Homo sapiens: one gene and its partners. The protein of the gene in region 5 purifies or fractionates together with the protein of the main gene of each other region. This does not show direct contact. Each region holds a gene or a part of one and is shown on either strand. Other genes may lie near its edges. The genes, in order: AMY1A, LARP4, FARP1, CKAP5, AKAP1, RBMS2 and NAA25.

Region 1 (4,297 bases), on a different chromosome or scaffold from region 5:
AATTCTGAACCCTGCAACACCAATGTCAATGAGATGGTTCATATATTCGGCAATCTTAGAACGCACATAATCCTTCCCCAGTGCAAGATCGAGAAGACCAGACAGACGACAATCTCTGACCTGTTGAGGTAAGAATGTTATGATTGATTAATAAAACCTCACTTTTCGCCTGAGAATCCATTTGATTATTCATTTATTCCATGATTCCTCAAGAGATATTCTATGGTGACTTCCTTGCATTGGACACTGGGGATGCTCACATTCTACTATAGATGTATCTTGGAAATATTTTCTAATAGAAAATAGAGAACTTAGGAAATAAAGTCGATGAGTTTTTCAATTGGTTGGGAGCTTTTTAAAAGTGGACAAATGTGTATTGATTAAAAATCTTAAATCAATATTTAAAGGTTTTCAAATATGGATTTGAGTTTCTTAAAGTAGTCAAACTTGTTAACCTCTGTCCCTAAGAGATCTAAATTCATATTTACAACGAAGTTCAATTAGCTACATGTCTACAACAAAAGGCATATATCACTCCTTATTCAGATCACTCTCGTAAAAAAATTACCTGAGTAGCATCATTATAGTTCTCGATATCTCCACTTCCAGTTTTACATTTACCATCATTAAAATCCCATCCAGAATATGGGACTGCTGGAAAGTCCCTACTTCCAGGGTTGAAGTAACTTCCACAGGTACTGCTTGTTCCTGCACTCACAGCATTACCACACATATGATTAATTACAGCATCCACATAAATACGAACCTAGAAAACAAAGTTTCTAATTCAGTGTGACTTACAGAGAGGCAGAAATTTAAAGAATTATTGATTAAATTTATAGTGTGCTAATAAAATTCCAAAATATTTCATACCTTATAACTATTTTCCTACAAGATCAAAAATCAACTGTGAAAGGAAAGTAATGTGAACTAAACACCTACATTCATTCCAGACACTTGGCCAAATATATATAGGAATGATAAACTGAGAGAACCGGAAACTACCATAAATAGGAGGAAAGGCAAAAAGCCCATTTTGGGGAGACACAACTCAGATGAGACTGAAAAGGTTACTATTTGGGAAATTTCAGTGGGTCACCAGGAGAAAGCCTGTACTCTCTACTAAGCTTGGAAGACAAATAAGGTAGCTATTCATCTCAAATTCTGCTCCTCATTAAATAGATAAGCTACCTATTCACCACAAAAAAAACCCAAGAATTAGGAATGGAGACACAAGTCATCTAAAAATGAGAGCAAATATTGTAACTGGAATTAAAATTCCTCACCAGAAAATCCTTCCAGGAAATATGGATAGTTATAGCGGTTAAAATTTGATGTTTTGCTTCAGAAGTAAACTCTGCTATAAACTTTAACTTATCTCTTTAGTAGAGAGCACATATACAAATATTTTCAAAAATTGAACATAAGGTGACAGTTACTTTTGAGTTTTAAAGTATGAAGTAAAATTAAAACTGATATGGAAAACTTTCTGCTCAAAAGGAGCAAGAAAGAAGAGACAGAAATCATTTTCCTATCTGTTATTTTTAAAGGAAACTAGAATTCACTTACCCCAACATTGTTGCATCTAGTCACCATGTTTCTAAATTCATCTTCATTTCCAGATCTTGTGCATAATTTATAGCTAACTGGTTGGTATCTTTCCCACCAAGGTCTGAAAGGGTTGTGAATGGCAACATTTTCATTTGGTGGAGAGACCTACAAATTAAACAGTCTTCATAAGTACCAAATTCTGTCTTACTGTATATCATTGAATGTTCTAGAATCTAATCAATAATACAAAAGATTCTTGAATCTTGGTATAGGCAGCTATCTCTTGAAAATATTAACAGCACATCGGAGGGCTCTTGTTGAAGAAAGATTATATCAGAAACAAAATATACAGTTGCAAAGAATACTACATTGTTTTTTCCTCAGAAAATTCTTTTACTTAGAATACTTACCTGTGAAGTAAAATGTTGCCCAAGCTTCACGTAGAAGATCAGAATAGTGTTTACTACAAGCACAGTGAATTCTGCAATTGATACTATGAATCATACCCACCTGAACCCCTCCAAATCCCTTGGGAGCTAAATATCGCTCACATTCAAGAGCAATATCAACCCATCGCCATTCAAACAGATGAACAATAGATGTTCGTCCTTGTTGTGTATTTGAGGAATACTGAGCCCAGCAGAACCCAATGGTGAAAAGCAACCAAAAGAGCTTCATTTTGCTTTGAAGTTGTCAGTGTCCTTTCCAGAAACTATTTATATTCCTGTAAGAAGCACATTTTACAATGTAAATAGTAGCATGAATAAATACTTGAGGGCAAACTGTTTATTCATAATCTGAAAAGGATTATCAATAATAATCCTAACTGGTGAAGAACATCAAAAAGTCTCTCATGGAAATCATCTCAATGACCTCTTAGACATTAATGTTTCTTTTCTTTTCTTTTTTTTTTTTTTTTGCATATGGTAGCACTTTTATTTTTCCTTACACAATGACATGTTGCTGTGGCCTAATGTTCTCACATAACAGCAGAAAACCAAAATTTGTTGTCAACTCTTAAAAGATCGAGAATTGCATACTAAAAAACTTTACATAAATTAAAAGGATGAATACATTTACCGGTATAAATGCGAACCGCTTCCAACTCAAGGCAAGTAACAGCCCACGGTGCTCTGGTAGATAACGTAAGCTAAGAAAGGAAACTGGGTCCTATGGCTTGGACTTTCCAACCCTGACAGACCGACAAGACGGAAACAACTGGTTCAGGAGCCCTTCCCAGCCTCTAGATAAATCTCAGAACACTCAGCCCTGACACATTAATACCCTGCACGGATCAGAGACTGCTGACCACACAGACTCACCAAGCCAGACTTGTCTTCCACAAGCACGTTTTTAGCCATGAAGTGACCAAGCCACGTGTACTAAACACTGACATCAAAGGTATGTACAGATACCAAGGGGAAGAGTTAACTTGAATGCCAGGCCAAAATCAGCAACAAGTTCTACAATCCAGTGCTGATATTGAGAAGAGAGAAAGACCCTGTCCTCTTGTTTTATATTGTTTTCTATTCAGTAAAAACAACAAGGAAGCAAAATCAAAGGCACAAAACCAGGCCTGGGCCTGGTTGGCCTAAACCCAGTAGTTACAAATCAACTTATGATTTAGAAGCCGATGTTATTCATAGATTCCAGACATTGTATAGAAGAACATTGTGAAACTCCCTTCCATATTCTGTTTCTCCCTGACCACGGGTGCATGTAGTCCTTGTCGCATATCCCTGGCTTGTTCAAATCAATCACGACCCTTTCATGTGACATCTTTAGTGTTGTGTGCCCTTAAAAGGGACAGAAATTGTGCACTTGGGGAGCTCGGATTTTGAGACAGTAGCTATCCGATGCTCCCAGGTGAATAACACCCTTCCTTCTACAACTCGGTGTCTGAGAGTTTTGTCTGCCGCTTGTCCTGCTACATTTCTTGGTTCCCTGACCTGGAAGCAAGATAACTGATGGACGGCCGAGGCAGCTCCTTAGGCAGATTAGGCATGCCTTGTGGAGTAAGGCCGGGGCATCCCTCAGGCTGCCAGGGACTCTGGCCAGCCTGAGGGATGGGATCCAAAGAGCGCTCCCAGGTAGGAAATGGCCCCGGTTGAACGCCTCGCCAGAGCAGTGATCCCCGCGGAGGATTAACACAGTGGCTGAACACCAGGAAGGAACTGGCACTTGGAGTCCAGACATCTGAAACTTAGTAAGACAAGTCTTTTCAACTTGCCCCACTCCACCTGAGCGGAAGCTTGGCCTGATCGCTCATGGTGTGCCTGCACCCATATCAATTTCCATATAGAGATTCCTAGTTACAGCTAGTTTTAGATCCTCTACAGTGGTAAAAGGACAGGCAGCAGCAGTAGTAGTAGCAAAGGGACATTTATTTCAGGAAAGTTCTCGCTCCACCGGCCAAGAGAAGCCAGCACCTAAAGTTCTGTTTGACCCAGAGCTCGAGGACTCAAGGCAGGAGATGGCACCAACAGTGCCCTCAACCCCTTATCCAGTGGGGAGGCCCCCTTCTCCTGAGCCCACAGCCCCTAGACCACCCAGAGTAGACAAGAACAAAAGTGAAACTGCGGGAAAATCCACTTCCCTGGCAGCCCGCTTAACGGCCCAAGACGGGAATTCAAATGCCCTGAGAGAGCAGCGATATACTAGGACAGATGAGGTCAGACATACGGTAGAAAGGCATGCTTTTGTGTATCACCCTTTTACCTCTGCTGAACTACTCAACTGGAAAAAT
Region 2 (3,310 bases), on a different chromosome or scaffold from region 5:
AGAGTGCAATGGCGCGATCCTGGCTCACTGCCATGTCCACCTTCCAGGTTCAAGCGATTCTCCTGCCTCAGCTTCCCAAGTAGCTGGGATTACAGGTGCCCACCACCATGCCTGGCTAATTTTTGTATTTTTAGTAGAGATGGGGTTTCACCATGTTGGCCAGGGTGGGCTTGAACTCCTGGCCCCAGGTGATCCGCCCGCCTTGGCCTCCCAAAGTGTTGGGATTACAGGCGTGAGCTACCGCGCCCAGCCATTTTTCACCCTTTAATAACTGCTTCTGATACTAAAATAACTAAAAGAATACCCCAGGATCATAAAGCTGTATCTTGTCTCTCTGCCCTTGTTTTAAGTGAAACACCATTACTTCCCACTGCCCTCATCATCCAAAAAACAACTTAGACAATAATAATAATAGAATTAGCGAGGGCAACATATAATACTGAAAGGTAGACAGAAGTAGTCATTAGACATACACCACCTAGAGAAAAGGAAACCAGTCCTGCTTTTTAATAATTTTATTTTTTTTCTAATTTTGTTAATTTCCCATAGCACCTTGGCGATGTTGAAAACAAATACAAATACAAGGATGTACTCATTTTAACATTTTATGCATGAGCATGTGTCACACCAATTTTGGGGGTAACAGTTTTGACAACAGGAACAAATCTAAGCAATCGACAAAACAGAAGCCGGATAACTGGCTCTGACCCCCACCCCCAACATTTAAGAGATGCAAAGGACACCTGAATTAGGTTAAAAAAATCAAGTTGATATGGATATTTCAACAGTGTTCTGTGCTGCAAAACTGAAAATAAAACCATTTAATACACAGCCCATTAATATCTGAGTTACGCTTTTAGGAACTGTCAACTCGAAGATTCATAAAAAGTTGTCAGCTTTTAAAAATAAACTTTAAGTTATCTAATAATCAGGTGAATTTCAAAGGAGGATTTACTCACAACTTGAAAATAAATTCTCTTTCAACTTCTTAAAATATCCTCATTCAGCTAATGAAAAGGGAAACATATATGTATCTTTTCGGAAGCTCAGACTAGCATATGCCCAAAAGCCTAAAGTTAAATTAATGGCCACCAAAATTGTAAGGAAATATAAAAAATTAGGAAAAAATCCATCATATATTATAGTTAATAATTTATAAAAGCCCCTCAGAAGGAATACACTGTTCTCTTTTGAGTTTTATCTTTTCTGTAAAAACAAAATTGGTACTTTTAAAATATGGTTAATATATATATTGCCAGCCTAAATACCAGAGACTTAACCCCAGTGTTGTTCAACTGTGTCAAAGTAAAACCAGTGGACATTTAAGCCAAGAGACTAATTATTAAGGCCATAACTAAGAAAACTAGAGAAGTGTTCATTAACTTTTAAATACTATTTTACGTTCCAGCAACATTCTTTTTGTTCTTCTTTACCCTAGTGAAGATGCTAACATTCCATCATTAAGCCTTTCCAAAGCAAACCTGTTTATTTAAAAAAGAAAAAGGAATGTGAAATAATATTCAAGCTATCTTAATTTTAGGAAACAAAAATAAATCAGAATTCTGCACAGCATCTGATCATCTGCAAATTCAGCACATAAGACAACTACAACAAACCTTTATCATTGAAAGCTCTTATATTCCTCAAAACCCAGCTGAAAAAAATTTAGATGGATCACTATTTTAAATGTCAGTGTATTTGGCAAAATTAAAATTACTCAGAGACAGGCCCTAGGTATTATGAAAACCTTAATTATCAGGATAGCAAATGGAGACAGGTTTTGCAATGTCTCTATGTACCTTCTCTATGAAGTGCAAAGTGGTGAACTTGTGTGACTCTTGTTCTCTTCATGCAGTAAGAACTATGGCAGAGTATCACTATACCCAACATTCAATATCATTTATACCTACTTTTAGCCTCCAACAGATCAAGGAAATGTCAAGTCATAAAGGTGAAGAGAAAAATTTGATTTTTTAAATTCCTCCATCTAAAGAACCAAATAAATAAACTACAATGAACATCCACCCTCATTAGTTACAAAGTAACGTTGGAAAAAAGCCAAGAGCTTCACACAACTCATAGGCATTATTTAGATACAAACTTTAAATCTGCTGTAATAAAATAAATGCTAAATACATACTGTGAATATATATAAATATTACACACACATACACACACACACACTCTCTCACTCTTCCCTATACATGCCATCAAATGGGAACTATTAGATGTAATGAGGCAAATTAAATTAAAAACATTGTCTTAATGAGAAAATTTTTAAAGGTTATATCTACAAATTAAATTTCTACTTTAAATAACATTTGAAGTAAAAGCAAAAATATACTTGCTTTCTTCTAAAAGAAGGCTCTTTTCTTGTATTTCAATTACAACCTTTAAATTTTTAGAGCTGGACTAACAGTAAGTCACACAAGCATACAAGTAATACAGACCTACATTTGTGACACATTGTTTAAAAAAAGTAATGTTTCATTTTAAGTGCAGTAATTAAGTTTATAATCCTTACCAAGTGATTTTTACAAAATGTTTATTCTCTGAAATCCAACGCATTCAAAGGATGTTAACACTTAAAACGTTTATCATTTCCACCAACTGCATTATCTTAGTAAACCAAAATAAGCACTTTTATCATAGATGTAGTCAATGATTAATATGTTTTTTTAAAGGACCTAAACTTCCCCCAAATTTCAGCACAGGTAGTTTTATTGTTATGTTTCACCTAGTAGGCAATTTTTAAAAATAGTGTGTAGAAATGAATAGTTTCAAACTGAGTAAATATAGTAGTATACCATGTCATAAAACAATCAAATCAAAAGCAACTGCCAAGCTAATAATAAGTCAAAGAAATAGTAATTCTGGCTTGTACAGATATGTGCAGTGTTTTCAAAGCTCTTAACAGTTAACCACTAACATGTATCTCCAAAGCTTAACTTAGAGTTGGAAGATGAATTTCACAGTAATGTAATTTTAACCACCATTTACATTCACTTTAATATATTACTAAGATGTTTACTCTATGTCACAATGGTGCTTTCCAGTGTTCACAATTTACAGTTTCAATTTGTACATATGTAATTTACTAACATATGGGACAGTTCTTACTATTACAAACTATCCCTTAAAAGAAAAATAAAACCCACCTTACATAGAACTCTGAACATGGTATGACTTAAAACAGATTAACACAACACGGTTTTTAATATTTTAGTCATTTTCTAAATAACAGCATGTAAACTTGTCTATTTAGTATATGAGAGCTACAACTTTATTCACTGAGAAATTATGCACTAAT
Region 3 (3,500 bases), on a different chromosome or scaffold from region 5:
CGTGGACTGGGTGGCTGGTAGCTCCTGCGTTTTTGAGCTGTGTCCTGGCTGGCTGCTGCCAATGAGGTGGACACCAGTGTGGTTTGGGGTGCACTGGCCACTTCTTGCTGGGTTCTGATTTTCTTGGAAGTGCATCTGCCTTCCTTATCCAATAGTTTTATCCCTGCATTGCTCTTGTGAAGTGGCTGGTTTGGTTCTGTATGTAGCATTTTGTACCTTTCCTCTGGCAAAACACTGTCAGTTTATAAACATTTTTTATATTTCCCTCCTTTAAAAACAGCTTGTGTATTTCTGCTATAAAATGTGTCAGCAAAGGCAGAGTGACCTAATAGGGCATGTTCTTAAGCACAGGGACTGTATCATGCAGGGGCCAATAAAGCTCAAGAAAACGAGTATCTGCATCATTGTGTGTCTCATGTGTAGTGTGTCTCAAACTCCACTCAGATGGACTGTTACCCACACTAGTATTTTCTTGAGGGCACACAGGAAGCAGAGGTGCTGGTCACAGGTCAGAACCACCAGTGTCCAGCAAGTAGTTTGGAATCAATCAATCATTCAGAAATAAATAGCTGAGGAGACTGCCTTGTCCCCAAGTCTCCAGGAATGAGTGAGTGGTGACTTCTGGAGGGAGCCTGATGCTGCTGTGTGGCCCGGAGCTGTTTGTTTGCTCTGCCCCTGCCTGGAGGTGGGGGGAGCATAGGGAACAGTGGGGGGCAGGCCCTCCCTGTGTCACTCTGAACACTGGGGCTTTAGAAACCCTTGCTGGAGTGTCCCCTTCCCCCCTCCCCCCCCACACAGAAAATGAAGACTACAGACAAAGTTGGTTGTTTTGCCTTAAAACATCAATATGCTGGATTGTGGCGTGAGGTATTTTTATTCCCTTTGTTAGTACTGGAAACCGTCTGGTACATCTTGTAAGGCAAATGATTAACACACGGCAGGCTCTTCGTCCGTTTGCAAGTTGCTGTTTGTTTCCAGCTACACCAGTCAGAGCTCCACAGAGAGGGTGCGTTCCTGGTTCTCAGGTGGGCAGGTGCTATGGTGCGGGGCGCTGGAAAGAATGGGGTTGAATTGGCCCTCGCCTCCGCTTGTTTGAGACTCTCGTTAGAAAGGGCTTAGGAAAACCAAGGGAATGGCAGCCACCCCATCACCATCGAGAACAGGCAGACGTTTCCCGAGTAGGGGCCAAAGCCACTGGAAACCGTGTTCCCTGTGCAGTCCGACTGACACTACCCCATGCCTGGGGGGAATGAGTATAAAAAGGGAAATGTTTTTGAAGACAGGCACGATATATACTACTAGAGAATGCGCAGTTTCAAACCACAGTTGCAGGAGGATATAGGAATAACGACAGGTGCCGGGGACTACGTACCATGATTTCATAGTGCTCTGCAGCCAGCAGGCTCACTAAACGCTCATCACGGAACATACCACAAATGGTGCTGATCAATGACACACGGGTTTTCATGCTTGTGACACAGACAGACAGCAAAACACCACGGCTTATTATCTTCCCATTGTGTACACCACTCACAGGACGGTGACAGTCCAGGTATTGCACTGGATCTCGGCTTTGCTTAACAGAAAACAACCCTGCTACGGTTGGAAAGAGTTACCACTTAAAACGATTTGGTCAACTTGCACCAAGAAGTAGGTTGGGAACAGGTGTTTTCAGGTGAGCGTGAAACCCCGCAGTGGAACGCTGTGTGCTGCAAATTGCTTATTAATCAGAGAAGTGAGTCCTACTAACTTCCTATTATTACAAAAGTAGAAAGACTGAAAAAAAAAATGAAATCTGAAAATGATCTCATTTGCTTAAGGCTGCACTGAGTGTATTGCAAACAAACAAACAAACACCGGGAAGTCCACTTCGTAAAATGCAGCAGCCAATAGGTGAAAATAATAAAAGAAAGAACTTTTTTTAGGAAGAAAAACACTTGCCCTGTCTTGTGTTGAACGGATGTGTGTGTACTGTTTTTCAGGGGCAGGGTGGAGGGAAGATGTCATTTGGCACTCTCGTAATGACAATGTTTTAATACTGGCACTAGCTAAAGAACAGCGCCCCCAGCGGATGCCAGGACTGGAGGTGGGAGCGCTGTTCATTCAGACGCTGAGAGGTCGGGGTTAAAAAACGCGGCTGTGGAGACAGGAGAGCTGCTGGGAAGCCATGTTTTTGATTTTCAGACAGGTGTTAATTTTACCAGGCTTCATTAATACAGAAGAAAGGAAACGTCTTCCAGGAAAGCAGCCACTGCGGAAACGAGTGTGTCCGGCCATCAATACACAAGAGACTCTTTGTGACTCAACACGTGGGGTCGCGAGGCAGAGCTGGTGGCACTGCGGATCACTTCCATCCACCTGCAACACGGGAACGCCAGTTAGTCAACCTTTTGTTTGGACGGACTCCTGACACTTTGGTGGGCATCGCTTACAGAAACACAAGGTGAAGTCAGGCCGCCTGGTTGGTAATCTGCCACTTCAGCAGAAGAGCAAGGGAACAGCCAGCACCCAGGCGTTCCTGAGGTACAGTGGAGACCCACTGGCCTGGGCACTCACTCAGTGTGGAGCTGGAAGTACCTTGCTGCAGTGACACTGCCCGCTCCATTGGAGCAGTTAGGAGCGAGGTGGCCTCTGGTTGCTGGGGAGAACGCTACCTCCTATTTTCATGGACATGGCAGAGAATGGCGGGACGTGTCCCATCCTGCTTAGTGGAAGCTCTCCCTTCCTTTTTTCTTTTTCTTTTTTTTTTGAGACAGGGTCTGGCTCTGTCACTCATACTGGAGTTCAGTGGTGCAGTTATCGCCCACTGTAGCTACCTCCTGGGCTCAATCGATCCTCCAGCCTTGGCCTCCCAGGAGATGGGACTACAGGCTTGCACCACCACGCCCAAATCTCCCTTTTTATATATTTGTGTATTTGCTCTCTACCGGTGCTTCTCAAATGGGTGCAATGCTGTCCCATTTGGTAAAGTCTGGAGACATTTTTAGATGTCCCAACTGAGGGGTTGCTGCGGGCATCTAGTGGGTGGCCAGGGATGCCGCTGAACATCCTGCACAATGCAGGACGGACTCCCCAAATTACCTGGCCTTGTCCCAGGCCTTTCAGGATCTGGACTGCAAGGCTGGACCCTTTGTCACAATAATAGCAAAATCCCAACTTTGATCAACCCAGCTCTCAACCCAGCTCTCGAGCTCAGTCCAGGATCAGATTTGAGAATGGCTCTCCTCTAGGTTCCTTTTTCAGGTGATGTTGTTTAGGAGGTGCTCAGCATATTGCTGAGGACCCCTCCCCTTCTGCCTCCCGGGGCGAGGAGGGCTCAGCAGGGCAAACTGCACAAGTAGTCGGCTTGGGGATGCAATTTGCAGAGGCCCAGGATCTCTATTCAAAATATGAATTGCAGGAACAGTCTTAGGCCTGACTGTTGCATTTCTTTCTTGGCTAAATGAAGTCTGCAGTCCCTGCCATTACACCATGTAGGCAGTCTCACTGGGGCTTAGCTT
Region 4 (2,733 bases), on a different chromosome or scaffold from region 5:
AGCTAATTTTTGTATTTTTTTGGTAGAGCCATGTTGCCCATGTTGGTCTTGAACTCCTGGGCTCAAGTGATTCACCCACCTTAGCCTCCCAAAATGCTACGGTTGTATGAGTGAGCCACCAGGCCCAGCCTTTGTAGCCATTCTTTCTAAATATGTCTTTCCACTATAGCAGCAAACGCCTCCATCATCCCTTCAGTGAACAAATACCCACTCCCATGTTCCCACTATAAAGGAGAGACAAGTTTAATTTCAGGAGGCTCCGGGGCCACCTGAAAACGATGACTGGAACCTTTACAGGATTAATCTTCCATCAATCTTTCATTTCTTGGACATCAATTGAATTGAAGGTGGGCTACAATAGGAAAGTTCCTTTGAACTTTATAACTGCCCAAAATCTCCTCCTGAATCCAGAACCTTTTCATCCTGAAGAGTTTTTCTGACTGTGGAGGGAGGTCCTGTGGAATTTATTCCAGAGGTGAATACTCAGCTCACTTTCTCATCCTTACTCTGACTGAATGTGAAGCAACTGTTAGCCTGGACCAAAAGAGACTCATACAACCAAGCAGCAAACCACTAAGATTTCCCAAACTCCATTAGTCAAATGAACACAAATCTAGTTGTAGTGTGAGAACCACTGAAGCCCAGCCAATCTCTGGGCGCAATCTTGTGTGCCTTTGGTCAGCAAAGTGGTAGGATGCCCAAGAGCTTCTTGAAACGACTGGTGATAATTGGAGGGAAATCATGACCAAAATCTCAAAACAAGGAAGGATGAGATTTTTCTGCTCCCTAGGAGCTGTTTGTGGAGAGCAGGGAAGGAGAGTTCCTTCCATTCCAAAGGAATAAAAGACAGCTCCAAGTCTGTGAGCCAAGAAAAAGGGAAGCTCTGTAAGCAGTAATTAACCTTTCTCTAACTGGCTGAATACCCAGCTGGTACCAAAAGTTAAAAAATTGCTGCCCAACACTCCATGATATGGAGCATCTTGGGAGTCAGGTATAGTTAATGCAAACTTTATTTATAAAAGACTCTTAAATTAGTTGTATCATGCCATGCATTCATACAGAATACAGTGACCCTTCAGGGCGACAGAGAAGAGCTCACAAACTGAAAGGAAAACTATTAAAGAGTTTCTAATATTAACTATTAAAAAGCTAGGAAAGATTAGGACAATTTTACAAATGAGCAATTAAAAAGAAAAGAAAAGGATCTGGGAACTAGACTGAGCAGAGAGGGGGCAGCTGTTTACAAGTCTGTACACTAAACTCATCCACGGACAGTCTTCTAGAGCAGCAGGACGCTGACAGAGAGAAGCAGAGTATGTACAAATACTTGTGCCACAATGACTCCTCCCCCTAGCTCCACGGCATGATACATACAACCAGTTTGTATACACTAGGCCTGCTGAGGCCATTTTAAACTATGAGGACTTCTAGTTTAGTAAACTAAAGCTGCAGGGTGCCGGGGGAGTGGGGCAGCTTCATTTGCGACTGCTCTTTATTCTCTCCAGTCTTTTTTTCAAGTCGTCTATGTTAGCTGTGGAGGAGGAGGAGGTCACAGTTCCTGAAGAGTGAGTCTGGTTAGAATCCAGGTCTGAATGCTGGTGCTGCTCCCGTGACTCCCGGAGCTGAGAGAGTTTGCTGTGGAGCATGTCTGTGGAAGAGGCGACAGTAGGAACTGCTGGTTTGGAGAGCAAAGAGGTCAAAGGAGGTCGGTCATCTTGCTATTGAGAGAAGGAGAGAGATTGTCTAAGGTCAGGTCAAGCAGGTCAAGATGCAGCTCCAGAACTACAGCAAGACTAAGCCACTTCTCTGTGGGCCAGCCTGCCTCGGACCTGCTTGTGACTACCCTCCCTGAACTGCACAGAAGAAAAGGAGCAGTACCTTTGTGTTGTCCAGACCACATCGCTGTCGGAGGATCTTTAGCCTTTCCAAGTAGACAGATGGCCCCACTTCTTCCCCATTTGTGTTACCTATGGAGGACACTGTGCTTGTGGGCGTGGGCACACATGTGACTTCCATCTGAGGGGAGATGCCTAGAGGGGAAAAAGTAGAAAGAATATTCAGATATCCACATATCCCCCTTCTAAAGTGCCTTGGTTAATCTCCCACCAAAAAGAACAATTAAGAATTTCCTATACTTGAAAACGACAAATTCCACAAGAATCTACCTGGAGTTGGTGATAAGGGTGCTCTGAAATATACAATATAAGCTTCTTGAGAATGCAAAAAACTGATATAGAAAGGCAGAATGTAAATTGGGTCATCCATCTGCATCCTGGGTTATGCAGGGGATTGTACTCCAGTAATCCCAGGGCTGACTTGGGCAATCCAAAAAGCTGAAGCTACTCCTAAGCATACTGTAATTGCCCAACTGAAAAACCCGAGGACCTTAAATGTTTGGAAGAATTAGATTAAGTTTGGACCAATGTCACATAGGAGAAACTCATTTGAACCTGTGAAGGAAGCAAGGTGTCCAAGGCTATGGTGTATTCATGGGGAAGAGAAGGTGTCCAACAATTATCTAAAGAGGGCATAGAACTGGAGTGTCTGTAACCCTACCACTAAGATCAATATTCTGGCAGGAGAGAGGAAAACCAAAACAACAAAAAATCCATCACACTTCCTAAATTTCTGAGAATGAACAATGATACAATGCGGGCCTTTAAAATATTTCACTTGGTATCAATGCAAATGCATTCCACAGGCCCCAAAGGTAAGGTACTGGGAGGAAACACT
Region 5 (2,800 bases):
AAAAACTAGAGCTCAAGCTCAACAGCCCTGCAGCCAGAGGCCTCAAACGTAGGGGGCAGGGGCGGGGCACTGGGGTAGGCCTGGGCTGCAGTGGCCAGCCTTCTTTAAGAGCAGGGGCTATTAAATTGAGGCAGTATCTCATCCCATAACTTACATGTATTTTTTACATCATTCTTATCACTACAGTAAATTAAATAACTTCACGAATCTATTAAGAATGACAACCAAAGAAGGCACAACCCGTTTTGGAAGCCAGTGCTTTAAACTGAGTCTGGCCAGTTAACATGCAGTGAAGAAGTCGGAGGACGCTTGGCTGCCACCTGGTGGGACAAGGAGAGAGAGGAAAAGGCCAGATAGAAATTTCTGGCCAAATTGTCTTCAAAAAACCATGGGTCTCCTGCAGAGGCAGTTGTGTGGGGCCTGTGATCCAGCTCGCCACACTCACCACCCCCCCCCCGCCAATTCTTCACCACTGGAAAAAAATGGACTCAAAGCTGCAGTTCATACAATTGAAGATTTATGTAAGTTACTTACTTATTTTTAAACTGCACAATGCTGAAGCCAGTCTAAAAAAGAATCAAACACACCACTGCAAGTTAATTCAATGAGTTACTTTTTTTTTTTTTTAAACAGATTTGTACAGCAAAAAGTTCCCAGATCACAGTCTCTACCATACAGTCACCTGTCCAGTGTGCAGGAAGCCACAGGGGCCCTGGCCAGAGGGGCCAAGAGCAGAAGCTGCACTGCAGAGTTTACTTCTACCTACAGGTGACATGTGGCTGGAAGAATCTTGAGTTCCCTTTGTTCTCCAGTGTATCTTGTACAAAATATTACATTTGTTTAAACACATATTTACAGAGTTTGCACAAATAGAAAATGGTTACAAATTACAACCAGGCTTGGCAGGATACCAGTTCCCCTCCCCACTGACCAAGGTCAGATGTGATGACCATTTCATATTTACAGTTGCAATTTAAAAAGTCTGTGTTTAGAGACCTAAATGAAGTTTATAAAAACTGGTTAAATATCATCAACTCATTTATGTAAGCTGTACAAGTAGTGGATACCAATTAGTCAGTTCATGTCTTGCTCCCTGAAGAAAGATTTTGAAGTAAAAGAAACCCTCTCAAGCAAGCAACATACATCCCTGGCCTGTCTGCCAGTTTGTTTGGTTTTTGCCGGGGAAGGAGATAGAAGGAAGAAGAGGGGAATGGAACAGGGGGAATAGGACAATCTGGTTGAAACTGTTTCTATTCCTTTTTTTTTTTTTTTTTAAACAGCTGAGAACCAGCATAAGCCAGCTGGCTTGTTAAACACTATCCTTTGGCTTTGCGAAGAGAACCCATAGTTCCATCCTTTTTTCTCAGAGACGAAATGTCTTCTCAATAGGACTACAGTATGGAGAAAGAAAGGACTTTCTGGAGAGGACAATGTTTGTTATTCCGATGTTCATCTTTGACTTGAGTGCCAAGCCCAATTTCAACAGTGCAAAAAAAGACTCTCAGGAAGCAGCATGGGGGTCAAAGGCTTGTGTAGTAGCTGTCTACCCACTGGGCAAGGCCTCGCTCCACCAGGGACCGGTTTATCAACACCACCTAGAAAAGAAAGTTCCCTTAAAGCTTTTGTCCATGGCATCCTGGGGCCATCTCCCTAGCCAACATGAGTTCTCCCCTCCCCGGTTGCCACTGCAGGCAACAGATGTATGAGAGTAACAGTGTAGGCCAGACGCAGTGGCTCATGCCTGTAATCCTAGCATTTTGGGAGGCTGAGGCAGGTGGATCACCTGAGGTCAGGAGTTCGAGACCAGCCTGGCCAACATGGTGAAACCCCGTCTCTATTAAACATACAAAAATTAGCCAGGTGTGGTGGCAGGCACCTGTAATCCCAGTTACTGAGGCTGAAGCAGAATCGCTTGAACCCCGGAGGCGGAGGTTACAGTGAGCCAAGATCACGCCACTGCACTCCAGCCTGGATAACAAGAGCAAGACTGTCTCAAAAAAAAAAAAAAAAAAAAGAGTAACAGGGTGGGGGACATGGCTTATGCTCTAGCCAACAGGAACATTTATTTAAGTATTCTGTTGGCTGCTGTGGCATAAGGATAGGGTTTTTTTGTTTTTGTTTTTGTTTTTTGAGACAGAGTCTTGCTCTGTCACCCAGGCTGGAGTGCAGTGGCACAATGTTGGTTCACTGCAACCTCCGTCTCCCAGGTTCAAGTGATTCTCCTGCCTCAGCCTCCCAAGCAGCTGGGATCACAGGTGTGCATCACCACACCCAGCAGATTTTTGCATTTTTAGTAGAGATGGGGGTTTCGCCATGTTGGCCAGGCTGGTCTCAAACTCCTGACCTCAAGTGATCTGCCCGTCTCGGCCTCCCAAAGTGCTGGGATTACAGGGGTGAGCCACTGTACCTGGCCAGGATAGGCTTTTTAATATGCTGAAGAAATCTAAGCTTTCATACCATAAGATAGAGGACAGAAAAACTCAACAGACAGAAGGTCCCAGAAAGTCTCGCACAGGGTTTCTCCACCTTGGCGCTATTGACATTTGCGGTTGGATAATTATTTGCTGTGGGGGGCTGTCCTGAATACTATGGGATGTTTAGTGGCATCCTTGGCCTCTACCCACTAGAGGACACTGACATCACCACTGCCAATCAGGACATCCAAAGTGTTCCCTAGGAGGTGCTTGTCTACAGTTATATCCTCTGATTAACTCAAGAGGAAACAAATCCCAGGACCAGCTCCTAATCAATCCATTACTTCGGGCCAGCAACACAGAAGGAAAAGAAGGGCAGAACTTAC
Region 6 (3,500 bases), on a different chromosome or scaffold from region 5:
TGGGAAGGGAGGGAAAGCTGGGCCGAGCTCTACTTGTGACAACTGATACTACAGTTTCTTTTCCCCTGCTGTCACCCCCTTCCTCTCCCTATGGCCAGCCTAATGAACACCTGTCTCTCTATCCTCCATTATTTGCCTTTGTCTGACTGTCTAGTGGAGAGGCACCTGGCCTTGAAGTGCAAGGGAGTCAAATTCTCCTTTCAGTGCATAAGGGAGTGACTGGGAGAAGACAAGAGCAGGATTTTATTTCCTAGAAGATGGGTGAAGTCTTTCTTCAATCTGTCTCCATGTGTATAGAGTCACATCTTGCAGAAGGGGACAGTTAAAGACCAAGACATAGGCTTTTTTAAAGGACTCCTGACCTCATAAAGAGTTGGAATTTATTGCTCTTTGCTACCCTAGCTCCCCGTTGTCCTTCCACAGAAGGAACATTATTTCTGATGTCCTGGTTCCCTGGGCAAAGGGTCCAAGCACACCGGGGCAGGGCAGGTTGCTCTGGACAGTTTAGAGAGCTTTGTCCTTTCCCACCATTGCACAGCACACACCAGAACAATGCCCACCTGAATCCCTCTGAGTACATGTGTGCATTCAGCATGGAGCCACAGCTCTTTCAAGAATCACTCTTGCTATATGCAGAGTTATCAAAAGTCAAAGTCTGGGGAGAATTCAAGGATCCCAGTCCAGTCCTTCCCCAACAGTTGCATGAGTGTCAAAAGGCACTGTTTGTCCAGGGTTGGGGTGAAAATTTACCCTAACCCAGGAGGCAGGGACAACACTGTCTATATCAGTGTTTCCCAGTCTTGGCAATATTGACCCCTGGAGTCAGATAATTCTTGGCTGGGGGTAGTGGGGACTATCCTATGCAGTGTAGGATGTTTAGCAGCCACTAGATGCCAGTAGCACACACATCCCACCTCCAGGCGTGGCAATCAAAACTGTCTCTAGATGTTGCCAAAGGCCTGAGGGACAAAACCACCTCTGATTGAGAACTCCTGGTCTGTGAGTGAAGCAGCAGATCTTCCACCGTGTGGAAGGAGCCTATGTGGATTCAACTAGGTCGCAGCTGCAAAGGCTCTGAGCACAGCAATGTGTAACAGGGAAGAGAGGGGCCATGAAGCCCAGGACAGAAAATATCCTCCAGGAGGCAAGAAAGCAGGTACTCCCAAAAAGCTATACCTCAGATGCTGTTGGCCTTGGCAGTGAGAAGAGTTGATAAAAGTCAGTAAGTCCATTCTTCCGGAACTTGCCAGGGAAGACCTAGTCTTCAACCAAGTTTGGCTCAAGGGTGTGTTCCCAGGGCTGTGGAGTTGTCTCTTTAGTAAGCCTGGGTCACATCTGTGCTTTCTGAAGCCAAAGTCTAGTTTTTTCTCCCAGGGTGTGGCAGGGTGGGGGAAAGAACAGCCACTTCCATGGCCTACTTAGTGTTCTGCCTTGTTCCTTGCCCAGCCTGCCCCCCAACCCCAAATTCCACATGAAATTTCATTTTTAAAAATCCATAAAATTAAAAGCTGTAAAAGGGCAAAGTAGGCAGGCTCAGCTGTTTAGAAAAGAGAAAAAGAAGAATCTGGACAAGAGAAAGAAGGCATAATATGGGTGAAGAGGAGATGGGGTGCATGAGCTGAGAGCTTTACAAAATAACATTTTTAGAGCCTGCATACTTTTTAAAACACATACACACATGCATCAAAAAAGTCCATAACTAAGCTCAGTAAGTAGGGCTCCTTCATCGATGTTCCAGCACCACACCTTTCTGTTCTGTTTTGGTTTGTAAAGAAATAATTACAAATTGTTTTAAAAGCATTCCCAAATAATTCCAATACATCGAAAACTTTTTCATATAGATGAGAAGCTGCGACCACCATGTCTCTTCAAGGTAGGGGAAAAGTACGTTGCAGTTAAAAACAAAAAGCTTTCTTTGCAAAAGAAGAAAAGTTTTTTTGATCTCCTTGAATGTAGCACACAAAAAAAGTGATGGTTCCCCCAGGCTCCATCAGCAATAGTAAAGGGCAGGAACGTAGAGATTTCTTTTTCCAGGCCCAGGCCTGTGAAAAACGATGGCTAAGTGTTAGTCCTTAGCAGGGCCGACGGATGGTCTCCATTCCTGGTTAACCCTCTGGAATCTGGGAGCATGAGTATCTCCAAGAATTCATTTCTATTCAGTAAAGATGGGGAGGGGAATCCTAAAGAAGGCACAAGCCAGAGAGGAGACAAGACAAACATGAGAACCTGTCTGACTTCAGGCCGGGCTGAGCTGCTGTCTGCCAGTGCAGCCCTCCCTGCCCCCCAGCATGTGGTTCTTACCCACTGTTACTTGTTGAACTGGAAAGAATAGACCCCATGCTCTGAGGGTGCGTCCACTGCCACTTGGTTCTGTTGGCCGCTGCTCTCCTGTGCCATAGCCAAGGAGGGGGGTCATCTTGCGCATTCCTTTCCTCACCTCCACTACAGCAGCCTGACCAAAGCCCACCCTACATCGAGTGCCCTCCCAAACCTACCCACTCTCCACACTCATGTGTGAGTGTTTCCACCCACACCACCACTTCCCCAACCTTCCTACAGCCTGTCCTCTTCCCAAGACGCATTAGTCAATACAAGCCAGCATCCTGGTGTCAACTACTGGCTGGCCAAATGTAAGGAAGGGCCTCATTCATGAACTCAGACCAAGTCCTTCTTTCCTACATCTGCTGTTGTTTTTTTTTTAAATATGGAACGCTTCACAAATTTGCATGTCATCCTTGCACAGGGGCCATAATCTTCTCTGTATTGTTCCAATTTTAGTATGCATGCTGCCGAAGCGAGCACATCCTTCCTACGTTCTTCGTATACCTACCAGCTATTTGTGAACACAGAATCAGCATCATTGTGAGAGAAAGATCTTGATCAGGGGGAAACCTGCCTCCGTTCATTTTCCTAATCTCAATCCAAAGAAATGATAACACCCTTACCTCGACTGAAACACTGGAAGAAGGCACAGGGGTGTACTGGGAGATGTAAGCTCCTTGCATAGCTGCAGCCGTCGGCATATACTAGAAAGAGAAACATCAACAGGCTTACAGCAGTGATTTTTGGCTACATTTGAAGCAGCTGAGGGGCTTTAAAAAAAATACTGACACCTGTATTCTACCCCAGAGATTCTATTTTAATTGGTCTGAGCATTTGCATCTTAAAAGCACTTCAGGTGGTTCTAAAGTACACTGTTAGGGAGACGTCTCCCTATATGACTTATTTTCCTCCTCTTTCCTGACTTTCTTCTGCTTTTCCTCAACACACTCCCTTCTCTACCCTTGAGCCCTTTCTATGCAAAAAGGAATGCAGTAGGCCTAAAAGAAACCTAATGAGCTTCCTCCATCCTTCCAGGTACTATTTTGATGAGGATTCCTAGGACGTGTGTGTATCTTAAACTAATATGCAGACAGAAGCACTATTCACAAGGTGCATGAGTAGGAATCAGTTAAAAGGGGTGGGCTGGGGAGCAGAATGGCTGTATTCCTGGCTCATGG
Region 7 (3,500 bases), on a different chromosome or scaffold from region 5:
TGAGCCAAGATCGTGCCATTGCACTCCAGCCTGGGTGACAAGAGCCAAACTCCATCTCAAAAAAAAAAAAAAAAAAAAAAAGGAGAAAAAGAAAAATTATCTTAGCATAAAGATGGAAATAAATCTCACGGAAAGGCACCAAACTATTAACAAGAGTTATTTTTGGAATGGTAGGATAAGTGGAAATTAGCACACCACATATTTTGGCACTAACATGATTTTTAGAATGAACTTGTGTATTTTATACTTTAAAAAATATGAAAAAATGTCTTACTTTGAAAGGAATACTTTATTGAGACAGAAAAAGAGAATTCAATTGGCTTATAATGAAATCCTTTCACTACACTATATTAAAAAGTGCTGTTATAATTCAGGAAAGAAGACAACTTACTGTTCACCTTCAGCAGGAGGACTCCAGGCCTCTTCAATCAGTCGAAAGACAGAATCGAAATAAGTCAGATAGAACTGCCAGTCATCTGAGCTAAAATCAGATTGAATGATGCACACAGGATTAAACCCAAGTTGTGACAGATCTTCCTTAGGAACCATGATATTCAATTTATTTTGTAAGTTATATTTTAGTATGTAGTAGGTTGGCTTACCCCCACCCACTCCATGTTTCCTTTGCAAATCTAAAAGGGCATTTTCAAAGTAATACTACTTTGTATTTGTAAAGAGTAGTAAACTACTCTTTCCTTCAATAAAATGACCAGGTCTAGAAAACTAATATTCATAACAGAAAAGTCCCCACATAAGCACTTCCAAAATAGAGGGAAGGGGAGAGAAGTGTTGTAGCAAAGAATGAAGCCTCTCTCTTTTAGGGGAATACTGAATTTGAGAAATTAATGATTTTCAGTGTTCATTCTTAAGCCCTAACTAGAATTCAGCACCATGGTGGCACAAGTATCTTTTTTTTTTTTTTGAGATGGAGTCTCATTGTTGTCACCCAGGCTGGAGTGCAGTGGCATGATCTCAGCTCACTGCAACCTCTGCCTCCCAGGTTCAAGCGATTCTTGTGCCTCAGCTTCCCGAGGGGCTGGGACTACAGGCACGCACCACCACAACTAGCTAATTTTTGTATTTTCAGTAAAGACAGGGTTTCGCCATGTTGGCCAGGCTGGTCTCAAACTCCTGACCTCAAGTGATCTGCCCACCTTGGCCTCTCAAAGTGCTGGGATCATAGGCATGAGCCACCATGCCCAGCCTACAAGTACCATTATAATACTCTACTGAAAGATGAAGGCTCCTTAAAAACTTTTAGAAACATGCAGGACACAACTACTATAAGAAGACTTTATGCCCAGAAACTTCAAAACACAGACACCAAGAAAATCAATAGTGAGGTCTTAAAGCCTCACTACAGTCAAATGGTACAAAAGAAAGCTTTTACTCACTTTTTTAGTAAGAGGCGCCGGGAAAGGGCATTGCACTCTGGCCACCTGCTCAGCTTCTTGTACATAGCCATGCATTTATTTTCCCGACTCTGAATCTCACTTGTCAACTTCTCTAAAATCAAAAGTTATAAAAGTTGGTAAGCTGGTTTCATTTCTGCTCAATAACCAGAATAGAGTCCAACCACAAGAAGGAAAATGTCACATTTTCTTTTCTTTTTTTTTGAGATGGAGTTTCACTCTTGTCACCCAGGCTGGAGTGCAATGGCACGATCTTGGCTCACTGCAACCTCCACCTCCTGGATTCAAGCGATTCTCCTGTCTCAGCCTCCCAAGTAGCTGGGATTACAGGCATCTGCCACCACGCCTGGCTAATTTTTGTATTTTTAGTAGAGACAGGATTTCACCATGTTGGCCAGGCTGGTCTTAAACTCCTGACCTCAGGTGATCCACCCATCCCAGCCTCCCAGAGTGCTGGGATTACAGCTGTGAGCTACCGGGCCCGGCCTAAATGTCACATTTTCTTATTCACTCTCTTAGAAAATGGGACCACTATTACATACAAACTACTACTATCTTATTAAAGATTATTTTACTTCAAAGAAAAAAGTACATTACTGACAGTAAATTTTTATAATCATTTTCTTTGTAAAAGGATAGGTTTCACAATGTATTGGGTTGAACATCTATTAATAGTACATGGGATATACTTATAAAATCCCAACAGCATCTAGGGACTAGTAAATTTAGTCCATAGACAAGCTGCCCATCCATACAGTTCCAAAACATCAAAGAGGACTGAGCTGACATGAGCTAAGAAAGATGAGATGTTGGAAGAAGACAAAAAAGAGTGGAGAGGAATCAAATCTTTCCAAACAACTGAAAACAAAAAAACTAGGATGATAGTTCTGACCAAATTAGATTTGCCCAACTGTTTAGCAGATTAAGGATACCAAAAATTACATTATGAATTTCCTGTTGAGAATCTAACTTTTTACTATCCATAGAGCTATAATGTAGTTTAAAAAAAAAAAAGGGCCAGGCCTGACAGGTCACACCTGTAGTAATCCCAGCACTTTGGGAGGCTGAAGCAGGCAGATCGCTTGAGACCAGGAGTTCGAGACCAGCCTGGGCAACATATTGAGACCCCACCTCTACAAAAAATATAAAAATTAGCCAGGTTTGATGGCATACGCCTGGAGTCCTAACTATTTAGGAGGCTGTGGTGAGAGGATAACTTAAACCCAGGAGATCAAGGCTGCAGTGAGCTGTGATGATGCCACTGCATTCTAGCCTGGCTAACAGAGCAAGGCCCTGTCTCAAAAACAACAACAACAACAAAAAAAAACAAGAAGTTTCTTGTGAGTAGCCTAAATATCCATCAAAAACTGGTTAAGTAAATTTCTACATTCACACTGTGGAACACTGGACAGTTATTAAAGGAGTGAGGTAGTGAACTTTATCTCTAGGAAATACTATTTAGTTAAAATAATAATAATAATAATAAAATAATGGAGGCCAGGCGTGGTGGCTCACACCTGTAATCCCAGCACTTTGGGAGGCAGAGGCAGGCAGATCACTTGAGGTTAGGAGTTTGAAACCAGCCTGGCCAACATGTTGAAACCCCGTCTCTACTAAAAATACAAAAATTAGCTGGGCGTGGTGGTGTGTGCCTGTAGTCCCAGCTACTCACGAGGCTGAGGCAGGAGAATCACTTGAACCCAGGAGGCAGAGGTTGCAGTGAGCCGAGATCGCACCACTGCACTCTAGCCTGGCCACAGAGTGAGACTCTGTCTCCAAAAAAAAAAAGAAAGAAAGAAATAATGGAGCCCAGTGTGGTGGTGTGTGCCCGTCGTCCTAGCTACTTGGGAGGCTGAGATGGGAGAATCACTTGAGCCCAGGAGTTCAAGTCCAGCCTGGGCAAAACAGTGAGACCTCATCTCTTTAAAATAAATAAATAAATAATAAAAATAAAGTATGGGTATAAGAGTATGCACAGCAGAGGTCACAAACTCAAATGCCTTCATAAGACAGACATACAAATAAAGAAGGAATGTTTGCGGTATCTACAGAGTACAAATCCTGACTAGAGGGGCATTAATTAATTTA

Evidence for each region.
Region 1: the proteins of AKAP1 (region 5) and AMY1A purify together in Homo sapiens (affinity purification with western blotting, with the first as the bait; one study listed by BioGRID). This does not show direct contact.
Region 2: the proteins of AKAP1 (region 5) and LARP4 purify together in Homo sapiens (affinity purification with mass spectrometry; one large-scale study listed by BioGRID and IntAct). This does not show direct contact.
Region 3: the proteins of AKAP1 (region 5) and FARP1 purify together in Homo sapiens (affinity purification with mass spectrometry; one large-scale study listed by BioGRID and IntAct). This does not show direct contact.
Region 4: the proteins of AKAP1 (region 5) and CKAP5 purify together in Homo sapiens (affinity purification with mass spectrometry; one large-scale study listed by BioGRID and IntAct). This does not show direct contact.
Region 6: the proteins of AKAP1 (region 5) and RBMS2 purify together in Homo sapiens (affinity purification with mass spectrometry; one large-scale study listed by BioGRID and IntAct). This does not show direct contact.
Region 7: the proteins of AKAP1 (region 5) and NAA25 purify together in Homo sapiens (affinity purification with mass spectrometry; one large-scale study listed by BioGRID and IntAct). This does not show direct contact.

The regions. Positions count from the first base shown.
Region 1 is NC_000001.11:103,654,263-103,658,559, reverse strand, and holds the start of AMY1A (alpha-amylase 1A precursor), read right to left. Parts: upstream 2,801-4,297; 5' UTR 2,632-2,800; intron 2,276-2,631; 5' UTR 2,230-2,275; coding exon 2,062-2,229; intron 1,717-2,061; coding exon 1,570-1,716; intron 767-1,569; coding exon 569-766; intron 121-568; coding exon 1-120. UniProt on the Homo sapiens protein: Calcium-binding enzyme that initiates starch digestion in the oral cavity.
Region 2 is NC_000012.12:50,477,195-50,480,504, reverse strand, and holds the end of LARP4 (la-related protein 4), read right to left. Parts: 3' UTR 501-3,310; downstream 1-500. UniProt on the Homo sapiens protein: RNA binding protein that binds to the poly-A tract of mRNA molecules. Associates with the 40S ribosomal subunit and with polysomes. Plays a role in the regulation of mRNA translation.
Region 3 is NC_000013.11:98,447,094-98,450,593, reverse strand, and holds part of FARP1 (FERM, ARHGEF and pleckstrin domain-containing protein 1), read right to left. Parts: exon of another isoform or gene 2,359-3,500; coding exon 2,277-2,358; 3' UTR 1-2,276. UniProt on the Homo sapiens protein: Functions as a guanine nucleotide exchange factor for RAC1. May play a role in semaphorin signaling.
Region 4 is NC_000011.10:46,742,548-46,745,280, forward strand, and holds the end of CKAP5 (cytoskeleton-associated protein 5), read right to left. Parts: intron 2,031-2,733; coding exon 1,879-2,030; intron 1,719-1,878; coding exon 1,476-1,718; 3' UTR 501-1,475; downstream 1-500. UniProt on the Homo sapiens protein: Binds to the plus end of microtubules and regulates microtubule dynamics and microtubule organization. Acts as a processive microtubule polymerase. Promotes cytoplasmic microtubule nucleation and elongation. Plays a major role in organizing spindle poles.
Region 5 is NC_000017.11:57,119,045-57,121,844, reverse strand, and holds the end of AKAP1 (A-kinase anchor protein 1, mitochondrial precursor), read right to left. Parts: intron 1,596-2,800; coding exon 1,521-1,595; 3' UTR 501-1,520; downstream 1-500.
Region 6 is NC_000012.12:56,587,820-56,591,319, reverse strand, and holds part of RBMS2 (RNA-binding motif, single-stranded-interacting protein 2), read right to left. Parts: intron 3,027-3,500; coding exon 2,946-3,026; intron 2,389-2,945; coding exon 2,308-2,388; coding exon of another isoform or gene 2,302-2,307; intron 2,181-2,301; coding exon of another isoform or gene 2,059-2,180; 3' UTR 2,043-2,058; coding exon of another isoform or gene 1,834-2,042; 3' UTR 1-1,833.
Region 7 is NC_000012.12:112,074,284-112,077,783, forward strand, and holds part of NAA25 (N-alpha-acetyltransferase 25, NatB auxiliary subunit), read right to left. Parts: intron 1,507-3,500; coding exon 1,395-1,506; intron 482-1,394; coding exon 392-481; intron 1-391. UniProt on the Homo sapiens protein: Non-catalytic subunit of the NatB complex which catalyzes acetylation of the N-terminal methionine residues of peptides beginning with Met-Asp, Met-Glu, Met-Asn and Met-Gln. May play a role in normal cell-cycle progression.